4 linked regions of the Homo sapiens genome follow. The protein of the gene in region 1 interacts with the protein of each later gene in a pairwise test. Each region holds a gene or a part of one and is shown in the gene's direction. Other genes may lie near its edges.

Region 1 (7,509 bases):
TGTTCCTGTGATACAAACATCCCAGTTTAGTGACATAATTTATTTCGTTCTTACGTGAAACCAGACAGTATAGATTACTCACAGATAATATAAACAAACATTTTTGGCCCTTAAAGTCTTGGTTACAGTGAAGGCAAATGTTTAATTTTTTAAATTTTTTTGCAGTTTATGCATTATTTTTACTTCTTCCAAACCTCATTTAAAATTCTTGTTTTAGAGGTGAGTAGATTTGACACAGTGACGTTTATTTGAGACGCATTATATATGCAGTCAGAGCGATGAATTCATTCTGTTTATATCAGAGAACATTCCAGCAATTGTAAAGCCACATGCATGCACGCATGCACTCTCGAACCACATCCAGTGGCAAGTTATTATGGGGACTGACAGACTGTCATTCTTTTGATGGCTTGAGCTGTATATCTTCTGAACAGCAATGGGGCTCTTATGCAGAAAGTATCATATGTTCCCAGCCAATTTACAGGGAAACAGCAATAACATTTTATCATGGTTGAGAGCCCAGTAGCTGCTTCCTATTAAACTTGCCCTTTCAGATACCTGTCTTGGATTAATTTGTTGATTTCGAATGGAAACTCAGTCTTCTCCAGTGAAGCATGACGTTCTAGGATAGACTCTGAATGACAATTACTGTGTATTCTAGCTGGTTTCAGACCATTACAAGCCTTGGGCACAGTGGAAAACAGAGGACTTCAGTAACTGATTTTAATATCATGTCTAATTTTAACTGTCAGTTATGTATGTGCCAGAGAACGAATCCTCAGAAAGATGAAATGCAAAACACTTCTAACTTGCTCTTTTTAATGATACACTTTGCTGCGGGTGGGGGCAGGGGGAGGGAAGTGGAGAGGGAATAACTATCTCCTGAAGGGAATCAGCACGGTGGGGAAGCATCAGATTTGAAAAGTGAGAATGAAACAACTGCCACCTGATTTTTTGTGTGTGCCCCTCAGGATGCTTCTAAATAGTAATGTGTTCACCAGAAAGGGTTTCCATCAATCAATACCAGTACTTTTCCTTGAACATTCAAGAAAAATGTAGGGTTTTACAAAGTTAGGATAATTAGCTTTGCTCACCATTTTGTTGAATATTATAGAAAAGAGTGAATTTCCTTAGCTGTAAAAGCTCTTGTGAGCTACTACTGAGTGTAACCTGGTAGATTAGAAAGAAGGAAGGAATTCTGCTGCTTTAAATATGATGAACCATCTTAAAAGATCTAAGTTAGGAAGCCCTGAAATTATATTTCAAATGGAGAGAGAAAGTGACGTTTTGGAGTCTTTAAAAGTATTTTCTCCTTATGGAGCATATTAGATGTATGCATTCTTGAACATTTGGTACTTTGCAGTTATAGCAAATTAACTAATTGTTAATTGTGATTTTACTTTTCACAATTATTCCCTAAGCACACTGGCTTTATCTTTTCCTAAGTGATATACTACAGTAGCATACTGATAGCCTAATCTTATTTAAAAGGAGAAAGCAAGCATCAGTAGCATACTATGCATGCAGTGAACTTGGATCTTTATAAAAGAATGAATGAAACTGTTGGGTTTCTCTCTGGGAATCTACAGTTGAACAGAATGAATGATAGCCAATTTAGACTGAATTTCTGTATCTGTTACAATCCTTAGTAAAATCCATCACTATAACATGGGCCACCATATGAATTCAGATACATGATATGCCACATAGCAGTCTGGGAACCACAGCTACCCCTTGAAAGCCTGATTACATAACAGTTGTATTATGTGGTAATTCCATACATATTTTTGGCTGTTAGCCTCAGCCCCCTGCTCTAGCATCTGAAAAAATGTTTTATTGGCCATGATATTCAGATTTTGAAATAAACAGGCATGTGTTTTAGACACACAGAGTAAACAATCTGAGCGTGCCAAGATGCACAGTTTGTTTAACATTTACATAAGTGTCTCTTTTCAGTGTTTTTTTTATTTTCTGGAAGAGGTTGGTTTTAAGAAAAAGTGGAAAGCTTTTATGACAATTGTTTCATAATGGCTCTGTGTATGAAAGAAACCAAATAAATTGCTAGGAATAAAGTTTTATTTGAAACTTGATTCAGTGATACCTAGCAAAATTGTGCTTCCCAAACTGCATTATATCTTTAGAATCCAAGTAATGGAGCATTTTGATTCTATTATTTTTTCTAGGGTCCACATTGAACAGCCGTTTATGCCATCAGCCCAGTGATAGAACAAATGATGTTTCTGCTTGGGCAAGCTTTGTTTTATCAGGATCAGTAACCTTATCAGCAGTTGACCCAGAACTATAATGCATGTCTCTGAATAGATAGCATATGTCACAACTCTGTGCAGACTTGCTTCATAAGCAAGATTGTCTAATAAAGATTTAATAAATAAGGAAAAGTTTGCAGCAAAAAGTCTTCTTTTATAATAACTTTTCTTAAGCTCGTTTACAGCTCCTGGCTCATCTCTTGCATTTATTCTCATAAAAACTAAAGGAATAAACATACATATAAATGCATTCACACAGACTCCCATGATGCATCGTTTATCTGTCAGTATTTCTTTCTGAAATATATCATTTGTGGGTAAAGAATGTAGAATTTAAATTATCATATTGTTTTAAGGTTCTTATGTGACATATAAATGTAGTAATGTCCAAAGACTAGAAAACCCATGAGTGTGATAAACCAACAATATTTTTATGCAATTGTATATTATTTTTTCTTAATAATAGGATAACATAGAAGGTTTTCTCCAAATGCAAAATGGTCCTGGCTCAAAAATATTCTTATTTAACCAGTAGTGTTTAGTACTCTATAATTCAAAATTGGATTCTTCACTCTCGTATCAACCTGCTTAGATTTTAGAAGACATATAATAAATGGAGAGAGAAGATGGAGCATCCCCATACATAAATAAGTCACGCACGACGTGTACATTTTGACACTTAACACTTCTTTTCTTTGACCTTTGACAGGTTAGGGCTTGACCCAAAACTACTGGCTAAAATCCTAAATATGAGCTCAGGACGGTGTTGGTCAAGTGACACTTATAATCCTGTACCTGGAGTGATGGATGGCGTTCCCTCGGCTAATAACTATCAGGGTGGATTTGGAACAACACTCATGGCTAAGGTATGGTAAATGTAGACACCCAAGAGAGAAGGAAAAACGTTTCACGGTCCAATAACACCTTCCTTCTCTTTCTCTTAATAAAGCATATGTCTCAGGTAAGAGGCAAAATTACTAGAATATTCACTCTCACTGAAAATGAGTAAAAACCTAACTTAGATGAAAATCCTTATCTTGTTCATTTTTATTCCTGGCCTTTTGGTTGAGAAGAATGGGCCAGACCATGTGTGTGTGTGTATGTGTGTGCGTGTGTGTGTGTGTGCGCACTTGGGTTTATTTATATGAGCCGGTAAAATTTCGTTCACCATTAATTTATGTTAATTTACCAACTTCTTAAATGAGAACAGTGAGAATTTTCTCATTGTTAATAATACACTGGCAGTGCATATATGCATCACGAAGAGAGGATTTTCCCATTGATAATAGATTTCCAAATACATCTTCCTGCTTTAAGATTTTAATATATGGATTTATATATAAAAACTAGTTAAGTCATTGGAAAAGCAAACTGTCATCCTTCTCTTATTTGAGATCTCAACTTTAGAAAGTCTATGTTCTCAACTACAGAAAATAATTTTTAGACCAGCTAACTTTCAGATTTCTGCAGTGCTTATTTTCTCCCAGTTGAGGGTTGGTTTTTGTTTGTTTGTTTGTTTGTTTGTTTTTCCTGATTAAAAAGTAAGAATACGGCCAGGCGCGATAGCTCATGCCTTTAATCCCAGCATTTTGGGAGGCCGAGGAGGGCAGATCACCTGAGGTCAGGAGTTCGAGACCAGCCTGGCTAACATGGTGAAACCCAGTTTCTACTAAAAATAAAAAAAATTAGTCGGGCGTGGTGGTGCGTGTCTGTAAGCCCAGCTACTCAGGAGGCTGAGGCAGGAGAATCGCTTGAACCCGGGAGGTGGAGATGGCAGTCAGCTGAGATAGCACCATTGCACTCCAGCCTGGGCAACAGAGTGAGACTTCGTCTCAAATAGAAAAAAAAAAAGAAAAAGAATACATATACCTAGATACCACACAAGCATACCTTGGAGATATTGTGGGTTCAGTTCCAGACAACCACAACAAGTCACACAAATTTTTTGGTTTCCCAGTACATATAAAAATTACGTTTATACTATGCCATAGTCTATTAAGTGTGCATTAGCATTATGTCTAAACAATATACGTATCTTAATTTTAAAATGCTCTATTGCTAAAAAAGCTAACAATTATCTGAGCCTTCAGTGAGTCATATAGTCCTTTTTTGCTGGTGGAAGGTCTTGCCTTGAGGTTGATGAATGGTGATTGACCAGGGTGGCGGTTGCTGAAGGTTGGGTGGCTATGACAATTTCTTAAAATAGGACAGTAATGAAGTTTAAGTTTACTGCATTGATTTACTCATCCTTTCACAGAAGATTTATGTGCTACTGTTTGATAGCATTTTACCCACAGTAGAACTTCTTTCAAAAACGGAGGCAATCCTCTCAAACCCTGATGCTACTTTATCAACTAAGTTTGTGTAATATTCTAAATCCTTTCTGTCATTTCACCAGGAGTAGATCCATCTCAAGAAACCACTTTCTTTGCTCATCCATAAGAAGCAACTCCTCATCCCTTCAAGTTTAGCACAAGATTGTAGTAATTCAGTCACATCTGCAGGCTCCACTTCTAATTCTAGTTCTCCTATTTCCACCACGTCTGCAGTGACTTTCTCCATTGAAGTCTTAAAGGCCTCAAAGTTATCCATGAGCATTGGAATCAGCTTCTTTCAAACTCCTGTTAATGTTGATATTTTGACCTCCTCCCATGAATCACAAATATTCTTAATGGCATCTAGAATGGTGAATTATTTTCATAAGGTTTCAGTTTACTCTGCCCAGAGCTGTCAGAGGAATCACTATATATGGTAGCTATTGCCTTATGAAATACTTCTCACATAAGAGTTGAAAAATGACTCTTTGATCCATGGGCTACAGAATGGATGTTGTGTTCATAGACATGAAAACAACATTAATCTCCCTGTACATCTCCATCAGCACTCTTGGGTGACCACGTGTACTGTCAGTGAGCAGTCGTATTTTGAAAGGAATCTTTTCTTCTGACCAGTAGGTCTCAACAGTGGGCTTAAAATAAATATTCAGTAAACCATCCCATAAACAGATGTGCTTTCTTCTAGACTTTGCTGTTCCATTTGGAGAGCACAGGCAGAGTAGATTCAGCATAATTCTTAAGGGCCCTAGGATTTTTGGAATGGTAAATGAGCATTGGCTTCAACTTCAAGTCCCCAGCTGCACTGGCCCTTAACAAGAGGGTTAGCCTGTCCTTTGATGCTTTGGAAACAGACATTGACTTCTCTTTAGCTGCGAAAGTCCTAGATGATATCTTCCAACAGCAGGCTGTTTCATCTACACTGAAAATCTGTTGTTTAGTGTGGCTACCCTCATCAGTGATAGCTGGATCTTCTGGATAACTAACTTCCTGCAGTTTCTCCATCAGCAGTTGCTGCTTCACCTTCCACTTTTATGTTATGGAGATGGCTTCTTTGCTTAAACCTCATGAACTAATCACTACTAGCTTCACACGTCTTCTGCAGCTTCCTCACCTCTCTCAGCCTTCACAGAATTGAAGAAAGTTAGGGCCTTGTTCTGGGTTAAGCTTTGGTTTAAGGGAATGTTTTGGCTGGTTTGATCTATCCAGACCACTCAAACTTACTCCCTATCAGCAGTAAGGCCGTTTCACTTATCATTCATGTGTTCACTGGAATAGCATTTGTAATTTTCTTCAAGAATTTTTTCTTTGCATTCTACTGTTTGTTTTAATGGGCCTGCCTTTCAGCCTGTCTTGATTTTCTACATGCCTTCCTCACTAAGCTTAATCATTTCTAGCTTTTGATTTAAAGTGTGAGACAGCTGACTCCTCTTTTCATTTGAACACTTAAGAGGCCATTGTAGGGTTATTAATTGGCCTAATTTCAATATTTTGTGTCTCAGGGAATAGGGAGGCCTGAGGGGTAAGAGAGAGAGAGCTGCCATTCAGTGGCTGGGCAGTCAGAACACATGTGTACCACATTTATCGATTATGTTTGCCATCTTATGTGCGCTTTCTGACACCCCAAAACAGTTTCAATAGTAACATCAAAGATCACTGATCGGCTGGGCACAGTGGCTCATGCCTGTAATCCCAGCACTTTGGGAGGCCGAGGCAGGTGTATCACCTGAAGTTAGGAGTTTGAAACCAGCCTGGCCAACATGGTGAAACCCTGTCTCTACTAAAAAAAAAAAAAAAAAAAAAAAACGCTGGGTGTGGTGGTGGCAAATGCCTGTAATCCCAGCTGCTCAGGAGGCTGCGGGAGGAGAATCACTTGAACCCAGGAGGCAGAGGTTGCTGTGAGCCAAGATTGCGCCACTACACTCCAGCCTGGGCAACAAGAGAGAAACTCCGTCTCAAAAAAAAAAAAGTTACTGATTGATTGCAGATCACCGTAACAGAAATAATAGTAATGAAAAAGTTTGAAATATTGTGAGAATTACCAAAATGTGACAGCTGCATGAACTGGGCACATGCTGTTGGAAAAACAGTGCTGATAGACTTGCTCAATGCAGGATTGCCACAAACCTTCAATTATTAAAATACAAAAACAAACATGCATTATCTGTGAAGCATGATAAAGTGAAGCACACTAAGACAAGATGTGCCCATACTTGGCTTACTCTCCCTCATTCCCCATGACGTTTGTTCATTCTGCTTCTTGAATATGCCTTGAATTCATCCAGCTCCCTCCTCCCCAGCTAGCTGTACCTTGGCTGAGCCTCGTTTGTGTTGTACCACAAATACATCTTAACTGATCTTGTCTTTCAGCCTGATCTTCTCCAGTTTATTTTCCATATCAAAGCAAGAGTGAGCTTTCTAAAATGTAAAATCCTGATTGTGTCACTTCTCCTTTGAAGCTTTTGTAGTTTCAGTTACTTGGAGATTAAAGTCCATCCCTGCAACTTGTCTGACAAGCCCCCAGATGCCTTGGCTTTTGCTTGCCTCAACCAGACTGATTTTCTTTCCCATCCCCCTCTCCTTGCTTTCATCGTGCTGAACTCACTTCTCCCTCTTGTTCTGTCTCTTGGAAACCTTCACATTTGCTTCACATTTGCTGTCACATTGTCTGCCAGGATGGATCATTCTTCCTTGCCCACCACCTCCCTGCCACCCCCATGTTTTCACCTGGCTCCAGGTCTGTGCTTCACTGTCTTCTTTTTCTTCACCTTTCCCAGCACCCCAGACCCTGCTTCCTTGGATCCCATGATAGTACTCCTCCTATCCAATTATACCATGCTTATTTAATTGTCTTTCTCCTTAACACAATGTGAGTTTGGGTGGGCTGTGGCTGTTTTGCTCATCATTTT
Region 2 (7,509 bases), on another chromosome or scaffold:
TTCAAACATGTGGAATGCATGGACTTGTCTTATTCTGAATACTTAGCACCTAAATAAAACCTTGAGACAGTAAATCTCCAAACAATGTGCTTTCATTATTATTCCATATTCTTCAGCACTGGATGTAAATGAAATGAAACAAAGGTTTCACTAATTCTTATGTTTCACTTATGTGTTGTCCTTTATGGCAAGTTTCACTTTCCTAGCTTGGGTGTTTTCATAGGTAAAGGAAAGCCTCCATTTCTTACCCTAACCTCGAAACCTAAATTACATGCAGATCTCCAGCACTCTACCTTGATTGCAGAATTTATAGCTACATTTTATGCATTGTTTTTGGCAGGATATTAATATAGATTATGAGAAGCTAGTGGTTCCATTTCTCAAAATAGAAGCCAGGGAAATAGAAAAAAGTATGCACTGCTTGATCACTAAATGATCTTCCTTACAGACAGGGGAAGTTAATTCATCCTCATTCTGGGGAGGGGGGAAGCTAACTTACGGGCCTCAAACTGTGGAAGCAAAAAGTAAAATTAATACACCTGAATGAGTAGAAACACTTTTTAACATATGCTTTATCTGATCATTTCTTTCTTTTTTTTTCAGCCACATGGTCCAAGCATGCTAAACCTGTGGCATGTTCAGGGGACTGGCTTGGAGTGAGAGATAAGTGTTTCTATTTTTCTGATGATACCAGAAATTGGACAGCCAGTAAAATATTTTGTAGTTTGCAGAAAGCAGAACTTGCTCAGATTGATACACAAGAAGACATGGTAAGAAAACAGAAAAGTCTTCAGTAATTTCAGAGATTGTTTGTATAAAAACATAATAAAACAATAATAGCTAATACTATAATACAATTGATCCTTGAACAACATGGGTTTGAACTGTGTGGGTTCACTTATACCTGGATTATTTTTCCTCTGCCACCCTTGAGACAGCAAGAGCAAACCCTCCTCTTCTTCCCCCTCCTCAGCCTACTCAATATGAAAACAACGAGGATGAAGACTTTTACGATGTCTTCACTTCCACTTAATGAATAGTAAATAGATTTTCTCTTTCTTGTGATTTTCTTAATAACATCTTCTTTTCTCTAGCTTCCTTTATGGTAATAATACAGCATATAATTCAAATAACATGAAAATATATGTTAATTTACTTTTATGTTACCAGTAAGACTTCCAGTCAACAGCAGGCTACTAGTGGCTAAGTTTTCTGTTTTTGTTTTTTGTTTGTTTGTTTGTTTGTTTTTAAGACAGAGTCTCACTCTGGCACCTAGGCTGGAGTGCAGTGGTGCAATCTCAGCTCACTGTAGCCTTGAATTCCTGGGATCAAGCAATCCTCCCACCTTAGCCTCCTGAGTAGCTGGGACTACAGGTGCAGACCACCACTCCTGGCTAATTTTGTTTATTTTTTGTAGAGATGAGGTCTCACTATGTTGTCCAGGCTGGTCTCAAACTGAGATCAAGCAATTCTACTGCCTCAGCCTCCCAAAGTGCTAGAATTAGCATGAGATACCATAAACAGCATGGTTAACTTTTTGAGGAGTCAAAAGTTATATACAGACTTTTGACTGCACAGGCGGTCAGTGCCCCTAACTGCCACATTGTTTGAGTCAACTGTGTATGACAATGTGTGCTCAACAGTGTTCTAAGCACTGAAACTATATAATCTCATGTAATCTTCTACTAACACCCATGAAGGAGTTATATAACTCTCCCTACTTTAAAGATGAGGAAAGTCAGTCACAGAAATGTTATGTAACCCAGCCAATGACACAGCCATAAGTTGTTGGGCTGGGATTTGAACCCAGGCAAGATGACTAGTGATGCCATGTCCTTTACCACAATGCATACTGTTTATGTATCTAAATGTCTTCGTTAAATGTTCTTAGATTATTAAGTAGATTTTTTAAACCCTTTTCAATTTGCATTCTACCAAGCATAGACAGAAAAAATTTTTAAAAATACAGCTCTTAGAATTTAGAGACAAGGAAATGAAGGAAATATGTGCACTTCGAAGACGCGAGTGAATTAATGGAAGTAAAGAGGGCAAAGAAGGAGACACGTGGACTCTAGGGACACAGAGTAAGAAAATAGATTAGTTTTTAAAGAAAAGCTGGGGGTTGGAGAGTGGCCAAGATGGCCGACTAGAAGTAGCTGGAGTGCGCAGCTCTCAAAGAGAGGAACTGAAGGGGTGAGTAAATACAGCACTTTGAACTGAAACATCCAGGGTACACGCAATGGAACTAATCAAGGAAACAACTCAACCCATAGACAATGAAGAAAAGCAAGGCAGGTCGATGGCCAACCTGGGAACGACATGGAGCCAGGGGAACTCCCCTCGCCCAGGGAAGTGGTGAGTGAATGTGCAACCCCTGGAACCCATGCTGCTCCCATGGATCTTTGCAACCCTCGGGTCAGGAGATCCCCTTGTAAACCAACTCCACCGGGGCCTTCAGTCTGACACACAGAGCTAAGTGGAGCTTCAAAAGAGCAGCCTCTCAGGCATGTGCAGTGACCCGGGAGCCTCAGATAGCCAGGAGTTCCAGGCTTCCCAGCAAAAGTAGTTGAAACTCCAGCGAAGAGGGAGGTTAGACCCCCTTACACATCCCTAGTAAAGGGGCTGAATCCAGGAGGCTGAGCAGCGACATTCTGCAGGACCCACTTCCATGGCATCTCACAGGATAGGACCCACTGGCTTGGAGTTCTAGCCAGCCATCAATAACAGCATTGCACCTCCCTGAAACAGCTCCCAGAGGGAGATGTGGGCAGCCATCTTTGCTGTTTGGGTGACTTAGCCATCCAGCCTTCAGGCTTTGGAGAGTCCAAGTTGACCAGGGGTGGAAGTGGTCCCCCAGCACGGCACAGCTGCTCTACAAAAAAGTGGCCAGACTGCCCTTGTAAGTGGGTACCCAATCCCATTCCTCCTCACTGGGCAGGATCTCTAACCAGGGTCTTTAGCTGCCTCCTACAGGTGTTCTTGGGCCGGTAATAGCTATGTACCTCCCTGGCACAGAGCTCACAGAGGGAGGGGCAGGCCACCTTCTTTGCTGTTTTGTAGGCTTCACTGTTGGTACCTACAGGTATCAGAAAATCCGAGGTAAATAGGGACTGGAGATGGCCACCAGCATACCACAGCAGCCCTATGATAAAGTGGCCAGACTGTTACATGAGTGCCCATCTCCTTGTCTCCTCACCAGGAGGGTCCTCCAGGCCTGGGCCTCCAGCCCCCCTCGCAAGCGCTATTGAGCCAGTAGCAGCTCTGGAATGTCTTAGAGAGAGCCTCCAGGGGCAACAGGAAACCTCTCTGCCACTGCCTCTGCACTGGAACTGCCCTTGCTGCCCTCAGACTAATGAAGGAGCAAAGACCCTAAGTCTCTCATCCACACCTCCAACAAGTTGCAGGAGAGGAGGCCAGTCCATCTCCACAGGCTCTGCTCACCCACCTTGCTCATCACCAGACATGGAACCTCCAGCTTGGGCCCACAGCAGAGACCCTCCATCCTGGGCTGATTGCACTGAATGATTGCTTACTTGCATCTCTCTGGAGTGAAGCTCCCAGGAGAAAAGCAAAAGACCATTGGCTTTAACCACTACTAAGGTCTCTTCCATTGCTGCCTCCAAGTTGGGGAAGAAACATAAACACTGAGATCACCCAAGAGCTGCAGTGGGCAGCCTAGAATTGCCAAGTCACAATCTATAGCCAGCACTCAAGTGGGAGAGAAACCCACATTTTCAGAACATTGAGAGAGAACATGGCTGCAACTGTGAGGAAAAGTAAGGGAGTCACACAATGGATCAAGAGTCTCCCAACTGACAAATACGTCCAAGCGCAACCTACTGGATCACACCTCAAATCTTCAACACCAAAAATATCTCACTAACATAACCCCCTCTAAAATTAAAGAAGTCACCTTCAAATAAAGACCCTGCACAAAGCTTCAGCCCTATGAAAACAAACAGAAAAGAGATCTATCGACTGTACTAAATATACACTGCAGTTAAATTGACACCCACTGCAGAGATGAGACAGAATTAATGCAAGAACTCCAGTAACTCAAATAGTCAGAGTGTCATATGTTTTCCAAACAACTGCACCAGTTCTCCAACAAGAGTTCTTAACGAGGCTGAACTGGCTGGAATGGCATTGAACTGACAGAAATTCAATGCTATTCCTGTCAAACTACCAATGATATTCTTCATGAAATTAGAAAGAAAAAACTATTTTAAAATTCATATGGAATCATAAAAGAGCCCAAATTGCCAAGGCAATCCTAAGCAAAAAGAATAAAGCTAGGAGCATCATGTTACCTGACTGCAAACTATACTACAGGGCTACAGTAACCAAAACAGCATGGTACTGGTACAAAAACAGGCACATAGACCAGTGGAACAGAATAGAGAGCCCAGAAATAAGGACACACACCTACGACCATCTGATCTTTGACAAAGCTGACAAAAACAAGCAATAGGAAAAGAACTCCATATTTAATCAATTGTGCTGGAATAACTGGCTAGCCATATGCAAAGGATTGAAGCAAGACTCCTTCCTTATACCATATACAAAAATCAACTCAGGATGGATTAAAGACCTAAATGTAAAACCCCAAACTATAAAAAGACTGGAAGAAAACCTAGGCAATACCATCCTGGACATTGAAACAGGCAAATTTCATGACAAAGACAACAAAAGCAATAGTAAAAAAAAATGCAAAAATTGACAAATATTATCTAATTAAACTTAAGAGTTTCTGCACAGCAAAAGAAACTATTAACACAGTAAACAGACAAACTACAGAATGGGAGAAAACTTTTGCAAGCTATGCATCTGTCAAAGTCTAACATCAGCATCTCTAAGGAACTTAAAACAAATTTACAAGAGAAAAACAACCCTATTAAAATTGGGCAAAGGGCATAAAGAGACCCTTTTTAAAAGAAGACATACATTTCACCAACAAACATGAAAAAAAGCTCAACATCACTGATCATTAGAGAAGTGCACATTAAAACCACAACGAGATATCATCTCACACCAGTCAGAATGGATATTATTAAAAAGTCAAAAAACCACAAATGCTAGCAAGGTTGTAGAGAAAAGAACACTTATACACTATTGGTTGGAGTGAAAATAGTTCCACCATTGTGGAAAGCAGTGTGGCAATTCCTCAAAGAGCTAAAACCAGAACAACAATGGTTGCGGTGGTGTTTACGTGATTGACTTATGATTCTTTTGTTATGGATGAGTTAATTTTTAAATGACTTTTGTGAACTAATGAGTCTGTCTACTTTTATCTTTGATCTAGTACTGACATGTATATTTGGATTGGGTAAGACTCACTTTTAATTAGTTAATTGTTCTGTTTAACACAGAAGTTTGTTCAGTGCCTATGTAAATGATGTACATAAAACACTTTCCAGTCCTCTCCTATTGATCTCAATTAGCATATTGCCATAATTAACCCAGAACTATGTGATGGCAGATATGACAGATATAACTATTGGTTAGTGGGCTTAATACTTGGGTGATGAAATAATCTGTAAAACAAACCTTCATGACACAAGTCTACCTCTGTAACAAACCTTCACATATATCACAGAACCTAAAATAAAAGTTAAAAGAACAAAAAGCTAATGAAAGGTTTGTGGCTTAATAGCAAAAAGCCAATAGAGCAGTGACTAAAGCCATCACATAATAGATTTCATTGCAGTAAATTATATTTATATAGAAGTTAGTTTTATCTCTGATTATATGAAAAAACATACAATATCAGTGACATTCATACTAAAGGGTATCAATGACTTGGTTGTAGCCCAATTATCTGGAGATACTTAAGATGCAAAAAAGCAAAATGAAAATCTTTCTGATAAAACTAACCCAAACATCAACATCTGTGCTGTTTGTTGTTATAGAAGCATCAGGGAAGACAAATTAGAATGTGAATCCTAAAAGATAGAATAATTGGGGTGGGAAGCATGTTCAGCAATGTGCTGTAACATATTAAGTAATCGCTGATTCCCTTTGTTTTGTGAAAGGAATTTTTGAAGAGGTACGCAGGAACTGATATGCACTGGATTGGACTAAGCAGGAAACAAGGAGATTCTTGGAAATGGACAAATGGCACCACATTCAATGGTTGGTGAGTTTCCAATGTATTAGCAATGTTCTTATTCTGGTGTGTCATATGAAAAATTTTAAATCATTTTGAGTTGTATTATTATAAACAAATCTTTCTGTTTTCCATGTGGAATTAACTTTTCAGTCTCCAATCGATGACATATGCCCTTTCACATTGAAGCATATCCTAGAGCAACCCATTTTCTTCTCACCTTGTTAAATGACACATGGTGAAATCTTCCATTTTTATTTTTATTTGTTATTTTATCTTTATTATCAAGCTCTTGCTTGACAATTAGTTCTCTTTTGCTAATTCAAATTTAATCATTCTGCAAATTTTAAGCCAAAACTCACGTATTACTTGTACTTCTTTCCAAGTAAAGTGTATATAAGATTTCTTTGTCTTTAAAGGGTTAAAGACTTTATAGTTGTCTTTAACATTCCAAATGCCCACCACAATGAATACTACTTGTTTTTATTTATTTGTTGCTTATTTTATTTATTTTTATTTCTGTAAGCATTTCCTGGGTGGGTTAAAATTGTTAAAAGTGTTTCTTGGGTTAAAATGGTTGAGGATTGTATAGTTGTCTTTAGCTTTCCAAATGTTCATCATAAGCAATATTATATTTATTTTTTTAATTTTTGTTTATTTTTTATTTAGCTTACTTTTTTATTTATATAATTGTTTCTTGGATACATATGTATCTCTGCCTTATTATTTTAGTAACGTGCTAGATTAAAAAAAGCAACCAATAAAACAAATATTGAAATATGCAAGACAGGACAAATTATACTTATAAATAAGGAAAGATTTGTTTATCAACAAAGAAAATTAATTAAAAAATATATTTTTATTTTACTGTAAGTTCTGGGATACAAATGCAAAATGTGTAGGTTTGTTACATAGGTATGTGTGTGCCATGGTGGATTGTTGCACCTACCAATCCATCATCTAGGTTTGAAGCTCCACATGCATTAGCTGTTTGTCCTAATGCTCTTCCTCCCCTTTCTCCCACCCCCTACTGCCCCCAGTGTGTGTTGTTGCCCTTTCTGTGTCCATGTGTTCTCACTGTTCAACTCTCACTTATGAGTGAGAACATGCAGTGTTTGGTTTTCTGTTCCTGTGTTAGTTTGCTGAGGATGACAGTTTCCAGATTCATCCATGTCCCTGCAAAGAACATGGACTCATTCTTTTTTATGGTTGAACAGTATTCCATGGTGTATATGTACCACATTTTTTTTTAACCAGTCTATCTTTGATAGCCCTTTGGGTTGATTCCATGTTTTTGCTATTGTAAATAGTTCTGCAATAAACATATGTGTGCATATGTCTTTATAATAGAATTACTTATATTCCTTTGGGTATATATCCAGTAATGGGATTGCTGGGTTAAA
Region 3 (7,509 bases), on another chromosome or scaffold:
GACTCACCTCCAGCAGGAGGGAGAGAAAGGTCAATTAGCCATCGTAGTATTACTGTATAGTGATGATTGCAGAGCTAGGCATAGATGTGGCGCAAGTAACTGTCACCTGTCTTTGGAGGAGAGATCAGAGGAGGAAATGGAACCCAAAGATCTGTCTACCCCCTCAGAGATGTTGGTAATTCTGCATGAAAAACCAGTTTAGTGCTCGCCTCAGCAGCACATATACTAAAATTGGAACGATACAGAGAAGATTAGCATGGCCCCTGCGCAAGGATGACATGCAGATTCGTGAAGCGTTCCATATTTTTGTCTCCCTGGACTTCGAGCAGGAGATGGCCACTACCACATCCTCCTCCCTGGAGAAGAGCTACAAGCTGCCGGATGGCCAGGTCATCACCATCAGCAACAAGCGGTTCCAGTGTCCGGAGGCGCTGTTCCAGCCTTCCTTCCTGGGTATGGAATCTTGCGGCATCCACGAGACCACGTTCAACTCCATCATGAAGTGTGACGTAGACATCCGCAAAGACCTGTACACCAACATAGGGCTATCCAGAGGCACCACCATGTACCCGGGCATCACCGACAGGATGCAGAAGGAGATTAACGCCCTGGCATCCAGCACCATGAAGATCAAGCTCATTGTGCCCCCAGAGTGCAAGTACTCTGTGTGGATCAGCGGCTCCATCCTGGCCTCACTGTCCACCTTCCAGCAGATGTGGATTAGCAAGCAGGAGTATGACGAGTCAGGCCCCTGTATCGTCCACCGCAAATGCTTCTAAATGGACTGCGAGCCGATGCGTAGCATTTGCTGCATGGGTTAATTCAGAAGTATAAATTGGCCCTGGCAAATGCATATACCTCATGCTAGCCTCACGAAAATGGAATAAGCCTTCGAAAAGAAATTGTCGTTGAAGCTTGTATCTAATATCAGCACTGGATTGTAGAACTTGTTGCTGATTTTGACCTTGTATTCAAGTTAACTGTTCCCCTTGGTATTTGTTTAATACCCTGTACATATCTTTGCTTTCAACCCTTAGTACATGTGGCTTGGTCACTGCGTGGCAAGGTAAGAATGTGCTTGTGGAAGACAAGTGCGACTTGGTGAGTCTGCATGGCCAGCAGTCTCCGATCTTTGCAGGGTATTAATATGTCATGGCTGAGTGTTCTGGGATTTCTCTAGAGGCTGACAAGGGCTCCTGAACCAGTTGTTTCTGTCCTGCTGGTCTGTCAGGGTTGGAAAGGCCAAGCCATAGGACCCAGTTTCCTTTCTTAGCTGATGTTTTCCTGCCAGAACACTGTGGGCTGTGACTTGCTTTGAGTTGGAAGCAGTTTGCATTTACACCTGTAAATGTATTCATCCTTTTAATTTATGTAAGGTTTTTTTTTGTATGCAATTCTCGATTCTTTAAGGAGATGAGAACAGATTTTGGTTTTCTACTGTTATGTGAGAACATTAGGCCCCAGCGGCATGTCATTGTGTAAGGAAAAATAAAAGTGCTGCTGTAACCAAAAAAAAGGGAAAAAAAAGAAACTAGTTTAATAGCTGCTGCTACTAATAAAAACAGCTAAGATTAGATGCTTACTCTGTCCTAAACATTGTATGTTCACTCACTCAATCCTAATGTCAACCTATGAAAGTAGATACTGTTGTCACCATTTTATAGATGAGGAAGTAAGGCTTAGAAGCCAGTGTGGTGCTCTTTTGCTGAGTTAGCCTACCTTCCCAGATTGAGCTCCAGGATGAGTGAGTCATTTATTCATTTATTGTATCTTTATAAAGCACCTATTATGTACTAGGTCCTGAATAGAAGGTAGTCCACAAAGCGGCTCTGGAGCTGCCTTCCTGGAGCTTCCAGGCTGACAAACCACTTTGAGGGTTTCTTCTCTGGGGCTTCCAGCCTTTACTCTGATTTCCATCCACTGCTGCCAGCACAGCTGTGGCGTGTGGAATCCTGGTTGGACCCAGACTTCCTCCCAAGCAGATGAAAGGATTAGGGGGCAGAGATGGGGGTGGAGGGCAGTCCTGAGATCAGGATGAGCTACTTTCCCATAATCCTGAATGTCCATCCTGTGGCCTGTGGATCTTCTGCAACTTATTCTATGTTAGTGCAGTCAGTCAGATAGTGCTTATGTATTGAACACCTCGAGATGACAACATTGAGCAGCTGCCAAGCGGAAGGCAGAGTCCTAGGCACTGTGTAAATGGATAAGTCTATCCATTTAATCCTCACAATAGCTCCTCATTAAGGTAATTTTTACTATCCACAGAGAGATGGGAATTAGTAACTTGCCCAGAACAAAGGCAAGCCTCAACCCAGATGATATCTGAGCATGACTTCACTGTTGGCGTTTGTTTGTTGTTTTTAATTTTTATTTATTTATTTATTTAGAGACAGAGTCTTGCTCTGTCACCCAGGCTGGAATGCAGTGGCGTGATCTCAGCTCACTGCATCCTCCGCCTCCGGGGTTCAAGTGATTCTCGTGCCTCAGCCTCTCGAGTAGCTGGGATTACAGGCACATGCCACCATGCCCATCTAATTTTTGTATTTTTAGTATAGACAGGGTTTCGCCATGTTTCCCAGGCTGGTCTCGAACTCCTGACCTCAAGTCATCCACCGGCCTCTGCCTCCCAAAGTGCTGGGATTACAGGCGTGAGCCACTGAGCCCAGCCTTGACTCACTGCAGCCTCAACTTCCTGGGCCCAGCCTTGGCTCACTACAGCCTCAACTTCCTTGGATCAAGTGATCCTCCAGCTAATTTTTAGATTTTTTTAGATACAGGGTCTCACTGTGTTGCCCAGGCTGGTCTCAAATTCCTGGGCTCAAGCAATCCAACTGCCTTGGCCTTCCAAAGTGCTATGATTACAGGCGTGAGCCACAGCACCCAGCCCCAGACTCTACTCTTAAATGCAGGATGTTCATTCATTATTTAGTCAACAAATATTTAGTGAGTTGCAGCTATATACAGGCACTGCCGTAGTAAACAAGAAAAAATCCTGTCTCTCTTGGAGCTTATGTTCTAGTGGAGAGACAGCATATAAATAACCAAGATAATTTTGGATGGTAGTAGATACTATGAGGGAAGTAAAGCATTGTAGTGGGATCTGGGATTGGGTGGCTGTGCTGGAAGACACCGTTCAGGCAAGACCTCCGAAGGTGACAGTGAGGCTGAGGCCTAATCAGTGAGGAGTCAGCTGTGCCATGCTCTCTGGGAAGAGTGTTCCAGACGGAGGAGAGGGCAGATACAGAGAAAGCATGGGGTGGGAGGATTTGGCGTGTTTGAGGCCACAAGCAGGCAGTGTAGCTAGAGAGGGGACTGAGATGAAGTTCAAGGGATAATTAGCACCACAGTGTTGGAAGAAGTTCGAAGTGTATTATAAGTGTAGTAGGAAGCCATTAATAGGTGTTGAACAGGGGAATGATGGAATCTGAGTTCAATTCTCAAAAGACCACTCTGGCCCTACCATTGTCTCAAGCGCTCAAGCTGTAGACCTGGAAGACCCCCATCCTGTCAGTCGTAAACTCTCCAGTCTTCATTTGAAAGATCTTTTGAATCCATGTGTTTCTCACCACCCTGCCCCTGATCCTCTAGTCAGGACCTCCATCATCTCTTGCCAGTGGTACAGCAGTAGCCCCTGAGCTGGCCTCTCCCCCTTTCGTTCTTCCAGGCACATGTACCACTTTCTTGCTCTGCAGTGTTGTTTTCTGCCTGTTGATGTTGTGTCCTTTCACAGGTCAAGGTTAAAAGTCACCTCCTCTGTGAAGTCTTTACTGGCTCCACCCCAGCCCCCTGTAACTGCTTTTTTAAACTGCGTCTCTGGAGGCTTGGCCTGCACCCCTAGCCAGGTGCTTTATGCTCGTGCCCAGGCAGCATTGAGGCCAGGACTCGGCCACTGGCCCTGTGAGTTCTCCTTAAACTGGATCAGTCTCTCCAGCACCCAGGTCCTGTAGGGCCATGGTTCTCAGAACACAGACAGGTCTGGGGTTCCTATGTGTGACATATTGGGGTGCATCTGAGATTTATTGTTGTTTTTTAATGCCCATGGTTTATAAAAAAGGAACTTTTATTTCCTGGCATACACCATGCTTCTGTTCCAATTTCTACCCTTGCACATTCTGTTTCTTTGTTATTTCCTCAGGGAAGCCTTTCCTGAACTCCCCCACCCATACTGGTGTCATGACCGCCCACCTTTTTTTTTTTTTTTAACTTTCTTATTGAGGTATAACTTATGTACCAAACGGTGTGCGAATCTCAAGTATACAGCAGGAAGAATTTTTGCATATCACACACTCATGTAACCGCCACCCAGACGGGGGCTAGAAAGCAATGCTAAGACCCAGAGGACCCCCTTGTGCCCTCCCAGTCAGTTCTACCACAGATTCCACCCCGCTGTGGACCTCTAGCCATAGATCAGTCTTGCCTTTTCTTGGACTTCACGTAAACAGAGTGCTATGTTACGTACTCTGTGTAAGATTTCCTTCATTCACCCTTATGTCTGTGAAAGCCTGTGTTGTGTGTAGCAGAAGTGACACTGTTTTTCATTGTTATGGACTATTTCAATGTATAACTATACCACACTTATTCATCGTACTGTTGTTGAACATTTGGATTCTTTCTAGTTGTTTTTATCAATTTTATTGAATTATAGTTTACATATAATAAAATGTACACATTTTAAGAGTACAGTTCAATGAGTTTTGGCAAATGTTATTTCCCAGGGGTGAGGGCAAAGAAGGTTCCAAAAGTGAAACTGCTGAGGCATTTAGTATAGTGCCAAACTGTTTTCCAGAATGGTAGAAACAGGCCGGGTACGGTGGCTCACGCCTGTAATTCCAGCACTTTGGGAGGCCGAGGCAGGCAGATGACTTGAGGTCAGGAGTTCGAGACCAGCCTGGCCAACGTGATGAAACCTCATGTCTACTAAAAATACAAAAATTAGCCAGGCATGGTGGTGCACTCCTGTAGTCCCAGCTACTCGGGAGGCTGAGGCAGGAGAATTGCTTAAACCCAGGAGGCGGAGGTTGCAGTGAGCTGAGATTGTGCCACCGCACTTCAGCCAGGGCAAGAGAGCGAGACTCCATCTCAAAAACAAAATGGTAGGCCGGGTGCAGTGGCTTATGCCTGTAATCCCAGCACTTTGGGAGGCCAAGGCACGTGGATCACGAGGTCAAGAGATCGAGACCATCCTGGCCAACATGGTGAAACCCCATCTCTACTAAAAATACAAAAATTACCCAGGCGTGGTGGTGCACACCTGTAGTCCCAGCTACTCAGGAGGCTGAGGCAGGAGAATTGCTTGAACTCGGGAGGCGGAGGTTGCAGTGAGCCAATATTGTGCCACTGCACTCCAGCCTGGGCGACAGAGCGAGACTCCATTTGAAAAAAAAAAAAAGGTAGAAACAGTTTATCCCTCCCACCAGCAGTGAATGAGAGCTCTGGTTGTCCCTTGCCCTCACCTGCATTGGTGTTGCTGTCGTTTGAGTTACAGCCATCCTGGCGGGATGCTGAGGTATCCCATTGTGCTGTCGGTTTGCAGTTACCCTTGTCTGTGCTTCCCCAGCCTTCTGGACCACCCTAATGGCCACCTGTCAATGAAACGTAATATTCACATGCTTCTGTACTGTATGAAGGGTCCCCAGCGTCCGTCTAACTGGCTGAAAGATCCCCTAAGCTCTGTCCCTTCCCCGTCCTTTTCCTCACAGGTGGTTTTTCCCCATCATCGGCCACATGGGCATCTGCACATCCACAGGAGTCATTCGGGACTTCGCGGGCCCCTACTTTGTCTCAGTGAGTCCCCATTCTGCCCACCCGGGGGGTTCCAAGGTTTAAGTGGAAGGCTGTCCTGTCTTGCCTGCAGGCAGGCTTCGTCTCCCCAGACCCAGGAGAACGTAGATAACCCGCAGTCCTGGCCCTGGCCCTCTGCCCCTCACCAGTGTTTGACCCCTTTCCCCCTTCTCTTGCCTCCAGGACAGGCCGGGAGGGCAGTGTGGCCAGAAGGATTCTTAAGTAACTGACCCAGCCCTTTGCCCCCACCCCTGGGGTACCGAGACATGGGTAGGGATTAGAGGCAAGAGTGGAGAGTCAGACCATCCAGGAACCACATCTCTGGACCTTCAGAAGGTGGGAGTCAAGGTGGGGGGACACGGGAGGCTGATTCGGTTCCCTGGGTGTGGCCATGGAGAAGAGGGGGTGGGGCTTTAGAATGAAGCAGCTGTGTTCTCAGGTCTGTTCCCTGGGGCTGTGACCAAGACTGGTCCAGTGGGCTAGCAGCAGAGGAGCATGCATCATCCTGTCTCCAGGTGTCAGAGGCTGGACTGAAGGGGTGTGGTGGCACCAACCTGTTTATATTAATAGTTGTCATGATCATCTTAACACGACAAAGGTCTGTCACTTTGTACTTAAAAATACTTTCACATCCATTACTTTATCATATATTTTTATGGTGATTAATCATTGACCAGGTCTGTCAGCAGGGTCTCCCTGATCTGAACCCAGAGTCTGTCTCTGTGTAAGTCCTGTACCCCAGGAATAATGTGATGAGTCTAGGACTTCACTGCAGTGTCTCCCTCACAGGAAGTCCCTCTGGGCCCAGCGCCCCCGCCCTGCTATGAATGCAGTCAGACTGCTGGGCGAGGAGATGGTCTCCATGTGGGCCACCACTGTTGAGTCAGGAGGCCAGACCATGATGGAAACCTCCTGCTGGTCCTCAGAGATCAGAGAAGACTGACCAGAGAACTTGGAGAAAATGAGGCCCAGAGAGGGCAAGAGAATTCCTGGGTGCCACACCAAGGGACAGTGGCAGCTGGAGCCCCAGATCTTTGGTCTCTGATGCAGTGCTCTGTGCACTTGTGCCACACTGCCTTCTTCCTGCAGAACAGCTGCTAGCTCTTTAGATGCCATGCCAGCCCCAGGGCAGGGCCCAGGCCCCACTTCTGGCCCCCCCACCCCTGACATACCCTCTTCTAAGTCACTGCACTTCTGCCACCTACCCAGGTTTGTCATCTGGCCCAAATGTAAGTTCCTCACTGACCTCTGCTTTTGTCCCTCAACAGGAGGACAACATGGCCTTTGGAAAGCCTGCCAAGTAAGTGATGAACACCCATGTGACTGGCTCTAGAGGCAGGTCGCTCCTGCCGGGGCGGGCCAGGCCTTCTGGGGCACAGGAGGGGCCAGCACCCTGAGAATAGAGTATTTGGGGTCGGGGGAGAGGTCAGCCAGGGTCCACCAGAGCATGGCAACCCCATACAGAGTGTGTACCGCACCAGCCCCTGGCTAGGGCCTTTACCTGTAGACCATCTGGGCCTTGCCACAGCTCTTCAGGTTTGTATTTTCAACTCCATGGCAAGGGTGAGGAAAGGGAAGGGACTTGGTCAAGGTCACACAGGAAGTGGCAGAGCTGGGACCCACACCCAGATCTGTCTCCCTCTAGACTCACTCTCCTGCCCTTTGGGAACAAATGAGGCATGGAAGGTAGAAGAGAGGCATTGTTTGGAGCTCTGCTGGAAAGTT
Region 4 (7,509 bases), on another chromosome or scaffold:
AAAACCTGGATTTGTCTCTGCATGTGTATTATTGTAGGACCAAGTATAAAGCACTTAGCATAGTATCAGGCACAGAATAGGTAATCAATATGTGGCAGTCATCTTTATTGCCACTAGTATTACTATGGGAGAATTCATTCATAACTTGATTCTAATGTAGTTATAATATAATCTACTCTGATATTTCCAGTTCTTTGTTTTTTCATTTGAAGATTGTCTATGCCCCGACTTGTCTATGTCAAAAAGGGAAGAGGGAAAAGGGATGAAATTCAAATGAGTAGGTGTGGGAAGCTTAGTAAGAGAATTCCTATCCAAAAAGTTGTCTCAAATGATAATTGTCCTTGAACCCTGCAGTGACCAGAGGTAACTGAAGAGAGACTTTTAATTTTGGCCAGTGAATATCGTGGAAGGAACCAAGACAATTTTGTTTCATTTTTGGCCTCAGTGGTGACTGCCTCGTATTGGGCAAGGCCTGTAATTGTTTCTGCTTCAATTTTCTCATTTGCAAGAGAGGCATAATAGTACTTCTCTTTTTCCCACACCCTCTTCCTAGGGGATATTGTGAGCATTAATAAGGCATTTCCTTACAAGCGTTTGGGCCTTCATGAAGAGAGAGCTTTGCAGAGACCCAGCAGTTCCTTTTCCTCCCTTAGGCCTGGAAAGGCAGGAGTTTACGTTACATTTCATCTGGTATCCCAGTGAACTGCCTTGACACCTAGCACAGTGCCTGAGATACATATTAAATGCCTCTTCACTCGCCTGTGATCATTTTAATAGAAAGAAGAGTGTCCTGAGAATCAGCAGAACTGAATCAAACATTTTTTTTCTGTCCCTAAGGATTTCTTGGACTAAGCTGAACAAGCACAGTGGCAAGTTATTTAATCCCTCAAATCCTAAGGATCCTCATTTTGAAAATAGGAACAATAAGGATAAGAATACTTAACTCAGAGTTGTCACAAGAATGAAATAATATGATATCTATAAAGCACCCAGCACAATGCCTCGCACAATGCCTGAACGTTAACAGTTGTTATGTCTTTAGCTATATTTGTCATCTGTGAATTGAAACTTATTATACAAGCTATGGTTCCTCTTAGCTCCAAACTTCTGAGATCCCATGACCTTTAAGAGCAGCTATGCAGTTCAGAATATTAAGTTTGCGCTCCTAATCTCTGCAGACGTGCTGGCAGGTTGACTGTCTCCCAGTAATAGGGATGCAGAACTGGCCACAGTCAGGGCTGGCCAACAAGGGATGGGATGGCAAGGGAACCAGTGGGAGACTGTTTACACCTTTGACTTCCTCTTCACAGGTCAAGGCAGGACTGTAGCATTAGGTCTCAGAGATGCAATGAACAGGACAAATACACTTCCCCTTCATCTGGACCTGAGGCTCTGGGCAAGTCAGTACCAGCTGGTTTCTTTTGGGAGCCATAGAAACTCTGGAGCTGTTCTACCGATTCCTCAAGAAGTAAAATATAGGCCAGGCGTGGTGGCTCACGCCTGTTATCCTAACACTTTGGGAGGCTGAATCGGGTGGATCACAAGGTCGGGAGTTCGAGACCAGCCTGGCCAATATGGTGAAACCCTGTCTCTACTAAAAATACAGAAATTAGCTAGGCATGGTGGCAGGTGCCTGTAGTCCCAGCTACTCGGGAGGCTGAGGCAGGAGAATCGCTTGAATCCGGGAGGCGGAGGTTGCAGTGAGCCAAGATGGCTCCCTTGAACTCCAGCCTGGGCGACAGAGCAAGACTCTGTCTCAAAAAAAATAAAAATAAAAATAAAAAAAGAAGTAAAATGTAATCACTGATAACCAGATTGCTTTGATTGGTGACTATGGGATCTTGTTTTTTAAAGTCAAATCAGCAAAACATCTTTATTGATGTGTATGTAAAGGCATTCAGCTATATATCATTTTAAAAGGCTCCTTCTTGCATATCTACCTCATCTCCTGAGTTGCCTCTATTCAAAGAAGACTTATCTTAGTCTGAGATTTTTCTTGATCAGAAAAAAACCTGTAAAGATATCTTAAATCTGTTATCTTACGGTCAAGGAAATTGAGGCTCTTGGAATAGAAGTGACTTATCTAAAGTCAAATGGAGAGGGAAGGAGAGAGCGTGCCAGCTAGCCTTCTGATCCTGAACCCACTTTTCCCATCTCAAGGATGACCATACATCCCATTTGCCTGGAATAGTCCTACATGGTTTCTGTGTACCTGTTGTGCTGGTGTAATCACTAACACCCCCTTTCCTCCAAAAGATTTCTGCTTTGGACAATAAATTCTATGGCCATCCCTCACCTCTCATGCTACATTGTCCTTACAGACCACAATGTATCCCGCTTCTTGGCTCTCTTAAGGAGTTGAGGCCTACTCAAACTAGCTCTGGCAAGAGAGGATTCTTTTTTTTGTTTCTGTAAATCTGGAAGGGGAAGCTCATAGAAATCAAAGGGCAAGAACCACGGCACAGTAAGGCCTCCTGAGAGGACAACCGAAAGTGGAAAGTCAGCAGGAAGCAGGCACACTCTGCCTCCCACTTTTTCCTCTGCTTTCTCCACCAACAGGCTTCCTCTGTTTACTCAGCCTGGCTCTGTACTCATCCGGGCTTGCTCAGCCCCGCCTCAGTGTGACTTTCCAGCTGTTGACCTCTCATAGACATGCTTCATCTCCTAGTTTCTCTTTTCCAAGTTTATAACGGAGCAATGTGATTGGCTCAGCACAGGAAGAAACTATAGCACTGTAAACGGAGGCAGTGTCGTTAATTTCCTTGCAAGATTCTCTAACTCCTAAGCAAAATTATCCAAATTCTTTCCTGGCTTTTAGAAACACGATCTTGTGATATCAAAATCATATTAAGTTTATTTTAGTGTCTTACTAATTCATGTTGACTATGAGTGCATTCCTTATTAATGATTAAGACAATATAGTAGGCTAACAGTTGTCAGCATAGCCCCTAGACTCTAGGAGATGCATCTAAATCACTTACAAAGATTTAGAAAATACCAGACCCCATCCCAGACTTGCTGAATCAGACTCATTAGGAACAGAACTCAGGTTAAAGTGCTTATCATAAAATCCATTACTGGAGGCAGGTTGCTGTGGGATCGTAATCTGCAATTTTGGGAATATGCATTTTTAAAAAAGGTGTTTATATTTGTATAGTGATTATTTTAGACCATGTCTTCATTCCTTAAGATGGTAATTCTGACTGAGGAGATTACTACTTATAATTACTATTAATCTGCAAGTTTACATTAAAGGAAATATTATTTGGTGAGGAGGGGAAGATTCCTGCCTGTGGAAACTACTTTGCTTTATTGTTAAATAAATCCAAGATTTCATTCTGTCAGGCCACAGCAGAGGGGCCATCTGTTCTGCCAGACATTTGCTTATTTCCCAGGAAGAATCAGGAGGTGGAATTATAAGCTCATTGATGAAAACATAGGATGTTGGCCAAGTTACTAGACATTCCTGGCCATATCATCAAGATATGCACTATCTATACACTATACACTAAGGAAGGGACCATTTTTAATCCAAGCTGGTAACTGGAAAAAACAACCAAGGAAAAATAAAGACCACTTTAGGTGTTTGCTTTCTATATCTAAATGCACTTTTGGGTACATGCTTTGGCAGTCATTCTTTCATTTGACAAATATTTACTGAGTGTGTACCATTTGCAAGGCAGTGTGCTAAGAGCTATGGATATAACACTAAACAAGAGGCAGTCTCTACCCTTGCAGATTTTATAATCCAATTTAAACTCCTGGGCCCCTCATATTCTTAAAAATTATTGAGGACCCCAAAGAACTTATGTTTCCATACCTATTGATAGTTACAATATTAGAAATTGAAACTGATATGTATTTTTGAGAAATGTTTAAAACAGAAGACTACACAAGCACATATTCCAATATGACATCATTATATATCACGTAACCTCTGGAAGACTCCACTCTACACTCAGAGAAATAATAGAATTAAAAACGCAAATGATACCTTAGTATTAAAATAGTTTTGACCTTGTGGGCGCCTCCTAAGAAGGTCTTCGGGCTCCCCAGGGGTCCTGAGATCACACTTTGAGAACTGTTGATCTAGTTTTCATTTAATTATTTTTTTAGAATATTTTTAAAAATACATAATATCCCTGTTTTATATTCCTGTAAGGCCAGTTTGGAAGCTATCTTGTTAATGTTTTCAAACAACCAGGATTTTGCTTGGTGTGTCTTTGATTTACTGTGTCCTTTTGGCTTTCCTGTGAGTCCAGTGTTAAAAATAGGAGTTTGGGCCATCAGTAATTCCAGTTCCACAATCTCTTGTCTTTCCCCGAGTGCTGATCAAAGTAGACAAGAGCATTCATATCTCCATAATTGAATTACTCAGTAATTCCCTTCTGGCCTCAGCCCTGCGGGGATTTTCAACCCATATGACGTAATTTGGTATTTTAATCTAGTATGAAAGCTCTCTTTGAAGGTAGATGTCCTGTCGTATTTAGTTTTGTGTCTTTTCTTACTGCCAAATGCAATGTCTTATTCAAAATAGATGGTCAGTAAGTGTTACTTGGATGAATAGAGAAAATAATTTCTTTGGAAATGATTTTGTTTGCATTTTGTTGTTTAGTCTCACATTTTGCCTCACTCTGTAGGCCAGTGGTCACATGTTTGTCTCATGAATGATTTATACCTTTAAAATCTGGAAACTTCACGTATTGGTCCAGATTTCCAGCTTCTCTTGAAACATGTGGATGTTCTTTGGTACTCGTCATACCAAGTTCTGTGTGGTAGCTGTCTCGGCAGAAAAGAGGCTGACCCTTAGAAGAGACCTGCCTTCCCTGTTTCCCACTGTCTTAGTCCATTCAGGCTGCTGTCACAAAATAGCATAGACTGGGTGGCTTATAAACAACAGAAATTTATTTCTTACAGTTCTGGAGGCTAGGAAGTCCAAGATCAAGGCCCCGGCAGATTTGGGGTATGGTGAGGGTCCACTGCCTCATAGATTATGGTCTTCTCACTCTAACCTCACATGGCAAATGAGCTCTCTGGGGTACCTTTTATGAGAACTAATCCCATTCGAGAGGGTTCTACGCTCGTGACCTAATCACCTCCAAAGGCCCCACCTCCTAATCTCACCACCTTGGGGGTAAGGATATCAACAAAGGAGTTTTGAGGGGACATAAACATTCAGACCACAGCACCCACCGTCCTTTGCGCCCTTATTGGCTCCCAAGGCCCAGTGAAGGTATCCGTTGTTGTGCATGTGCTGTTGTGTTTCTTAGAGTAGAGAAATGTTTCTCTATATCTGACACTCCTTACCAAAAGAAGGAAAATGAAAGATAGCTTGAGAGGATCATGTGTTTAACAGAAATGGGGGAGGGCATGTTTCTCTGTAGAAATGAATATTGCTGCTGGGGTTTGACATGCAAACAAATGTACAAACCCATGGCCTGTGTCACTCATTTGCCCTAGCCATCTGGCCCCTTCAGCATCTGAATTTTACACACTTTCCAGAGACAGTGTGAGGCAGAGTGCCATTGTTACACTAATGTAATCACTCATCACAAGTCCCATTTTTTAAAATTCATTTTTTAATTGACAAGTCAAAATTGTACATATTTAGGGCATGCAACATGATGTTTTGAGAGAGATATACATATAGATATACATAGTGAAATGGCTAAATCAAGCTGTTTAACATACACCTTACCTCAATTACTTATCTTTGTTTTGTGGTAAGAACACAAAATCTAATCTCAGCATTTTTCAAATATACAATATTTTGGGGTTTTATTTTATTTTATTTTTGTTTTTGTTTTTGTTTTTGTTTTGAGATAGGGCTTCTCTCTGTCACCCAGGCTGGAGTACAGTGCCACTACCATGGCTCACTGCAGCCTTGACCTCCTGGGTTCAAGCCATCCTCCTGCCTTAAACTCTAAAGTTGCTGGAACTACAGGTGTGCACCATGCCAGGCTAATTTTTAAATATTTTTTTGTAGAGATGGGGTCTTGCTGTGTTGCCCAGGCTGGTCTCAAATTCCTGAGCTTAAGCAATCCTCCCACCTTTGCCTCCTAAAGTGCTGGGATTACAGGCGTGAGCCACTGTGCCTGGCCCAATATATTGTTATCCACTGTGATCACCATGATGTACATTAGATCTCTTGAATTTGTTTATATCAAACTGAAATTTTGTGTCCTTTGACTAACATCTCACCAGTCCTCCCAGCGCCCACAATTCCCATTTTAAGGATATTTTCTTTTAACACTGTACTTCTGATAATCAACAGTAGTGGAAGAGGAGACATAGAAATAGGTAGGTAATGAAAATATTACTTATTTCAATTTTGAGAGATATAATCACAACCAAACAGGTTGCAAAATAATGAGACTGGCTGTGCAAGTTACACACAGAATGTGGGCCTTGTTTCCGTGGCCTTATTTCTTATTTATTCACATCTGAAACTCCTCTTTCTCACCCGCCTCCCCACTCCCCATATATGTATATATATATTCCCCTCCCGCTCCCAATTTTCACCTGGTTCTATGTTTAAGTTTCTATCGGTAGCTGCTTTTTTTCCCTTTAGGTCATCAGTTCTCAAACTTGGCTGTACATTTGTAATCACCTAGAAACTTTCAAAAATAAGTTAGTGGGTATTTTGTAGCAGGAGGTTTTTTGGGATTGTCATTCCACCATATTGTCCTGTATGTAATTTATAAACAAAGTACAGTTCACCCATGAGCTACATTTGAATCTGAACTATCAGAGCTCATTAGTTAAAATTATGACAGTTGCAAAATGAAAATGAGTTAAGCAACAGTGACATAAATAAATGAATGCCAATACATTTTTACTGAGTTAAAATAAGGTCAGGGAATAAGAGTAGAATGTTAATGGCAGTTTCTTTCTTTTATGTAAACAGTGGAAATTACTTAAATTACTGCATGAGTCTGGGTTGGGTTTGCTTCGTTTCAGGGAGCAATTTTAAAAAACAAAGCAAATCAATTGGTGTTTTGCCATTTGATGAGTTTTATTAATCTGGAGTCCAGTATACAATTAGGCCAATATACCATCCATACACAATTAGGGCAAGTTCTCCAAGTTGGTCTGCATTATCTCTGGATGAATTTAGACTGTGCAGATGGCAACATGGATGCTTAAGTTGTGTTTAATTATGAAGTAGCACTTTACTGACCTTAAAGAACAACCAGTAGTGCTCTCGAATCCCGAAACTTTCCTTAAAGGTATTACTGATTCCCGTGAAAGCCTAATGGATTCCCTGAGTGCTTATTTTTATCACTTGGAAGTGGCTTACATCAGGACAGCTGGTTTCACCACTCTCATGGTGTTGCCTTCCCAAAAGATTGCTGTTAGGCTGACTTGGGTTGTGGCTGTATTAAGTCATGTCAGTGTTCAGCAGTCAAGCTAATCCAGCCTGCATCTGTTCCTTCATCTGCAGGTCAGGTGTCAGCCTGGCCAGCGACTCCATGTTCACTACACACAGCTCAGAGAGGTTGTTCTCAG

Evidence for each region.
Region 2: the proteins of HIBADH (region 1) and CLEC2A interact in binary tests that used the Homo sapiens proteins (3 or more experiments, as listed by UniProt).
Region 3: the proteins of HIBADH (region 1) and TMEM222 interact in binary tests that used the Homo sapiens proteins (3 or more experiments, as listed by UniProt).
Region 4: the proteins of HIBADH (region 1) and SCARB2 interact in binary tests that used the Homo sapiens proteins (3 or more experiments, as listed by UniProt).

Annotation. Positions count from the first base shown.
Region 1 is NC_000007.14:27,526,816-27,534,324, reverse strand, and holds part of HIBADH (3-hydroxyisobutyrate dehydrogenase, mitochondrial isoform 1 precursor), read left to right. Parts: intron 1-2,976; coding exon 2,977-3,133; intron 3,134-7,509.
Region 2 is NC_000012.12:9,915,327-9,922,835, reverse strand, and holds part of CLEC2A (C-type lectin domain family 2 member A), read left to right. Parts: intron 1-603; coding exon 604-770; intron 771-6,032; coding exon 6,033-6,136; intron 6,137-7,509. UniProt on the Homo sapiens protein: Membrane-bound protein expressed mainly on keratinocytes which acts as a ligand to stimulate the activating receptor NKp65/KLRF2, expressed on the surface of natural killer (NK) cells.
Region 3 is NC_000001.11:27,325,018-27,332,526, forward strand, and holds part of TMEM222 (transmembrane protein 222), read left to right. Parts: exon of another isoform or gene 1-1,508; intron 1,509-5,697; exon of another isoform or gene 5,698-5,702; coding exon 5,703-5,787; intron 5,788-5,967; exon of another isoform or gene 5,968-6,120; intron 6,121-6,223; exon of another isoform or gene 6,224-7,052; coding exon 7,053-7,084; intron 7,085-7,509.
Region 4 is NC_000004.12:76,203,636-76,211,144, reverse strand, and holds part of SCARB2 (lysosome membrane protein 2), read left to right. Parts: intron 1-7,509.